Linked DNA regions of Homo sapiens: region 2 is linked to region 1. Evidence: fine-mapped expression QTL. Tissue or cell type: whole blood. Region 1 holds a variant in brackets; the other region holds the start of a gene. All regions are shown on one strand. Distances are from middle to middle.

Region 1 (2,905 bases):
CCAGGCTGGGGTGCGGTGGTGCCAACTCGGCTCACTGCATCACTGCAACCTCCACCTCCCGGGTTCAGGCAATTCTCCTGCCTCAGCCTCCCGAGTAGCTGGGATTACAAGCATGCACCACCACACCCAGCTAATTTTTGTATTTTTAGTAGAGACGGGGTTTCACCATATTGGCCAGGCTGGTCTCAAACTCCTGACCTCAAGTGATCCGCCCGCCCTGGTCTCCCAAAATGCTGGGATTACAGGCGTGAGCCACCGCGCCTGGCCAGTTTTCTTTCTTTTGAGATAAAATCACGGAAAGAACCTGAGTATTAAACCAGTTAAACTTCCTACCCACTTAAGAGTCCTTTCTATGATAATCTTGGATGGCAATCATCTTGCCTTTGGGCTTAATACCAGCCATCGCTTGGGTGTGGGCTCTTTTTGGTAATACAACCTCTATGATTTTCCACTTTGATTTGTTGGAAGATGCTTTCTCATGTTTAGTTGGTATCTGACTCCTTAGAGCTTTCAGGATCGTTTCTACCACTATAGTGACAAACACAAGCCCTTTCCACATGCTGACTCTTTAAACATTTAAAGAAATCTATAATGTTGGCTGGGTGCGGTGGCTCATGCCTGTAATCCCAGCATTTTGGGAGGCCGAGGCAGGTGGATCATGAGGTCAGGAGTTCAAGACCAGCCTGGCCAAGATGGTGAAACCCCATCTCCACTAAAAATACAAAAATTAGCCGGGCCTGGTGGTGGGCGCCTGTAATCCCAGATACTCAGGAGGCTGAGGCAGAGAATTGTTTGAACCCAGGAGGCGGAGGTTGCAGTTAGCCGGGATTGCGCCACTGCACTCAAGCCTAGAAGACAGAGTGAGACTCTACCTCAAAGAAAAAAAAAAAAGAAAAGAAAAGAAATCTAGATTGTTCTCCTTTGATCTTCTCTTCCACTGGCTTGCTACTCTCAATTCCTTCAGATTGAATTTATGAAATGCTTTTGTCTCCCTCACCATTCCTGTGGTTCCTCTTTCTTATTGCCCTTTAGAAAATATTGAACGCAATGCGTTACAGCAGAGGTCAACTAACTTTTTCTGCAAACCGCCAGATAGCAATATTTTAGACTTGCAAGCCGTAAGGTCTCTGTTGCAACTACTCAACTCTGACCTC[G/A]TAACATGAAAGCAGGCATAGGGCAACATGTAAATGAATAGGCGTGGCTGTGTTCCAGTAACATTTTATTTGTGGACACTGAAATTTGAATTTCATAAAATTTTCACATGCCACGAAATATTATGTGCCTTTTGCTTTTTCTTTTCCAACCATTTAAAAATGCAAAACCCATTTGTAGTTGGAGAGGCGTACAAAAACAGGCTATGGGCTGCATTTGGCCCATGGGCCGTTATTTACTGATCTTAGATATTGGAGGACCAGTGCTGAAACCACTGGAACTTCAGCTTTAACACTAGCACTGTCATTTTCAGAAGCCGCATCAAACTGCTGGCTGCTTCTGACAAGGTGGTCAGTTACACTTGGTCTTCTCCACCCCCCATCCCCCGCCCCTCCGCCATTTCCTGACAAAGCTGTCTCTCTAACCTGTGGGTATGTGTTCTGCCGAAAACAAGCAGCCATACCACAGCAGCCGTAACCATAGGACTTTGAAACAAATGCAATGAATGGCATCCACTAGTTTCAAGTTTGACCACATGTTTTTATTGTTTGTTTGTTTGTTTTTTGAGTTGGAGTCTCGCTTTGTCGCCCAGGCTGGAGTGCAGTGGCGCAATCGCTGTTCACTGCAATCTTCCCCTCCCTGGATCAAGTGATTCTCCTGCCTCAGCCTCCCAAGTAGCTGGGATTACAGGTGCCCACCACCATGCCCGGCTAATTTTTGTGTTTTTAGTAGAGACAGAGTTTCACCATGTTGGCCAGACTAGTCCGGAACGCCTGACCTCAAGTGATCTGCCCACCTTGGCCTCCCAAAGTGCTGGGATTACAGGCGTGAGCCACCGCGCCTAGCCTGACCACGTTTTTGATTCTTGCTTCTGTTATATCTGTATTAACCGTTCTTCTTAGCTTCGTGGCAGATGTGATAAGCATGCCTTTGTGTCTTTCTCTAAGTCACTGACTTTTCAGTAACATCTAAATCATAAAACATAGGTCTGGCCAGGTGAAGTGCTTGTGCCTGTAATCCCAAGGGGCCAAGGCGGGAGGATTGCTTTAGTCCAGGAGTTGGAGACTAGCCTGGGCAACACAGTGGACCTCATCTCTACAAAAAAAAAAAAAAAAAAAAAAAGTCATGACTGCTTTCCTTTGTTGCAGAAACCAGTAGGTATTTGGGTGTAGAAATGAAACCCTCAATTATATTCATAAGGCTAAAAATGAACTATTCCCTACTTCCTCATTTGTTTTGATTTTTAAAATAAGGTTCTCGTTAGATATTTTGAGAAACAGTTTAAGATTATAATTTTGTATGCAGAGGAGAAAATTTAGAAAATGGTGAAGCCAACTTTTTTAGTGTATAAACATTTAATCATAATTATATATGTGTCCGTGTGGACATTTATTTACCAAGGCTTTGCTTTAAGGGGAAGGGAGAACACAGAGGGCCAACATTTATGGAACATTCTAGTGGGCCAGGCCCAATGTGTTAATCATCTCATTTCAATTTTGCAGTTATCCTCCAAGGTGGATCCTATTATCTTCATTTAACAGACGTGGAAATTGAGGCTTAGAGGATTTGACAAAATTACCCCCATCATTAATGGCAGAGCTGGGTGTAAACCCTGGGCTTGGACTGGCGTTATGTCTCACGGCTGTAATCCTAGCATTTTGGGAGGCTGAGGTGGGTGGATCACCTGAGGTCAGGAGTTTGAGACCAGGCTGGCCAACATCCTGAAACCCTGTCTCCACTAAAAATACGAAAA
Region 2 (2,905 bases), 25 kb before region 1:
AAAAAAGGAAAAACAGCTTGAGTTTCTTTCCATATCACAGCCTTCCAATGTGTTATTATTCAACACTGCAGTGTCAGATTTAGATTTTCCACCTCGAGGAATTTGGTTTAGCTTTAATTAGTTGCTGTGAATATTTCTGAGCCAACTCTGGAAAGCATTTATCTGGAAAATAGTTTCCACTAAAATATAAGCTGGATATAGGGTATCATTTTCCTAGGAGGGTTTGTATCAGTTAACAGTTATAAATTCTCTCCAGCCCTCTGGATGACTTTTGCCACAAGCCCATCATCGTCATATTGGTTAATTACTTATTAATTAAACACAATTCAAAATACTGTATTGAGGCATCTGCATCGCCATCTAAGCTCTAGCTTCAGGACTTCAGAGCGTGAAGATTTTTCGGAGAAAAGATAACGCTTACAGGTTATTCTCATACAGGCAACTGATGCATTTTTCATCCGGCAACTTTTCATAAAAACAAGCTGAAAAATACCAGACAAATGAAAAACAGACTTCAGCAGTTCCATGCTGCTTCCTGAGTAACTGAAGAATGTGCTTCTTGTGGTTAAAATGAGAGATCTGTTTAATATGGATCAAATAGCAACACTCCAGGCATTTTCATTGACATTTCACTGTGACTTTTTGAACTTAGGAGTGCGGATACGAAAACCTACTCTTTCTTTCTGCTGCGCGGAGCCTGCACAATCTGCAGAAAGATTGCAGAGCCGGGCCAGGCGAGGTAACAGGCTACGTGGGGTTCATGTTCTCTCTGGTTGTTCCCTCCCCGTTTGTACTTCATTTCCATTCACACGGCTGCACTTCCCAGTTTTCCAGGATCTCTCCTCTGAAACCAGGCAAGGGTTTGTTCCCAAATCCCACCCATTGCCTCTCCAGCCCCAGACTTGCTTACTGGACCACACATAGGTGGTGGGCATTGGTGACTTGTCCCTAGGGTCAGGGGACCAGAAACTTCCCAGAGGGGCTGGATGGAGCACGGCAGCACTCAGGGCACAATGGAGAGCGGATTCAAAGGGCAAAGGAGCCGAGGAAAGCCCCTCTGCCCGAGCCTCCCCAGCGCCGGCCGGGCTCCGCTCCGGAGCAGCCCCGCCGTCTGGCAGAGACATGCTGTTTTGTTTAAATCCTCCACATTCTTTGCCATTTCCCCATTGGCCGGATGGGGCTACCCTCCCCGCCGCGGCCGCTGCTGATGTCAGCCTCGCTCGCGCTCGCTCCTCCCGCACCCACCTCCCGGCCCCAGGCACACTGCATCGGCGCGGACGCTCCGGCCCCGGCGAGGTGGCTGCAAACTCGCGGGCACGCACGGCGCCCGGGGAGCCGAGGGACTCGGGGGAGGGGACGCGCGCGGAAGGCGCCAGCTTCCTCCCGCCCGCCCCTGGCAGCCGCGAGCCGAGGTTGGAGGCGCCCGGGGCCCCAGCCGGGCAGAGCCGAGCGGCGGCGGCGGCGGCGGCTTCCCTTTTCTCCCCGAGCCGAGCCCCGGAGCGGCGCGGGGACCGGCCCTAAAAAGAGCAGGAAATCTTGTTTACCGCCCGCGGAGAGAAGCCGATCGAGCCTTTGTCTGGAAAGTCAGCATCTCCGGCTCCGGCTGCAATGTGTTCCTGGTGACATTAGCATCGGGCAGACCCGCCGGAGGAGGGGGGTCGCCAGGTTCCCGTCTGCTTTCGGAGGCGGATCGAGCGGGTGACTTTTGTGCATTCGTTTTAATTTTTGGAAATCTCTCTTTTTTCCTCCCTCGCTCGCTGCCGGGCATGTCCTGATCTGGCGGCCGCTCCTACCACCCTGGGCAGCCGAGCAGAGTCGTCCCCAGCGGGTCTCCCTCCCTGCCTCCCTGACTTTGCAACACCGCGTTCCGGGAGGACCGGCCTCGGCGAGGGAGGAGGCGGGGGAGCTGCGAACACCCAGACCCAAACCCTGACATGCTCTGGGGCGGAGAGGAGGAAGCCAGGAGCTGAGCGCGCCGCGGGGGCTGCTTCGCCCTCCGGCTCCGAGCGCCGGGCTCCGGGCGCCCTGCCCTGCGCCTGGGCAGCAGCCTTGCTGGTCTTGGGGGCGCCCCCCGCTTCCCGCCCCGGGGGTCCGCGGCCGGCAGGACCATGCTGCTGAAAGAGTACCGGATCTGCATGCCGCTCACCGTAGACGAGGTAAGCGCCGCGCCCGGCCCGGCCTCGCCCGCTCCGGGACCCCCGCCGCTACCGCCGCCTCCTGGCCGGCGAGCCCCGGGCGAGCGGCAGGAAACCCAGGTGGACGTTACCCCGCAAACCCGAAGCCTGGAGGAGAGGAGGGAGGGGATTTGCGGCTTCCACTTGTCACCCCAGCGGGGGAGGGCGGCGCTGGGTGGGGCGGCGGACTCCGGGTGGGCTTTTCGGGGGCGCCCAGAATCCAGACTGTTGGGGATCACTATGAGCCAAAGGGAGTGGGTGCGCCCCCTCCCTCCAAATAAGAAAATGAATAAACCAAACCCAAGAGCCCCCGGCGCGCGCTGTAGCTGGGGTTTGGGGGGCATCCCGTCCTGGCCGTGGGCCCAGCCTCCCCTCCCCGCCCTCTGCGGTCAGGTAGGGGTGCGAGGAGGAGCCCTGCGCCCTCGGGATCTGCACGCCCCGAGCCCCGCGGGAGGAACCTCTGAGCCCTTAGGGGAGGTCCCTGCGGGGCCCGACTTCTCGCCGTCGCCGCGGGCTTGGGCGCAGCTCCCGGCACGTCCGCCCTTCGAGGCTCGGGACCCGGCTGTGTCCTTTCGCAAACCGCCTGGCTCGGAAACTTTCTGCGTCTCTTGTTTCTTCCGCCGCGGGGAGCGGCGCGCGAGCCGGGAGCGGCGGGGGCTGCGACGCGGCCACAGGAGGGCGCTCCAGCACGTGGTGCCGGGGCCGCGGCTGCCGGCTGGGGGCGCCGGGCG

What was found.
Region 2: it holds the start of PITPNC1, and the variant in region 1 is fine-mapped to the expression of PITPNC1 in whole blood (TOPMed, PIP above 0.99).

The regions. Positions count from the first base shown.
Region 1 is chr17:67,400,968-67,403,872 of GRCh38, forward strand. The region is part of intron 1 of PITPNC1 (phosphatidylinositol transfer protein cytoplasmic 1); the gene reads left to right. Among named protein-coding and RNA genes, the nearest start is that of PITPNC1, 25 kb to the left of the region's middle. RefSeq lists a silencer at 1,186-1,480. The variant G/A (reference allele first, on the strand shown) is at 1,155.
Region 2 is chr17:67,376,047-67,378,951 of GRCh38, forward strand. It overlaps PITPNC1 (phosphatidylinositol transfer protein cytoplasmic 1), which reads left to right and starts at 1,235. Exons shown (of 9, transcript NM_012417.4): 1 at 1,235-2,156. The coding sequence starts at 2,109. RefSeq lists an enhancer at 1,041-1,734 and silencers at 1,120-1,239, 1,290-1,539, 1,890-2,309, 2,320-2,619, 2,730-2,905.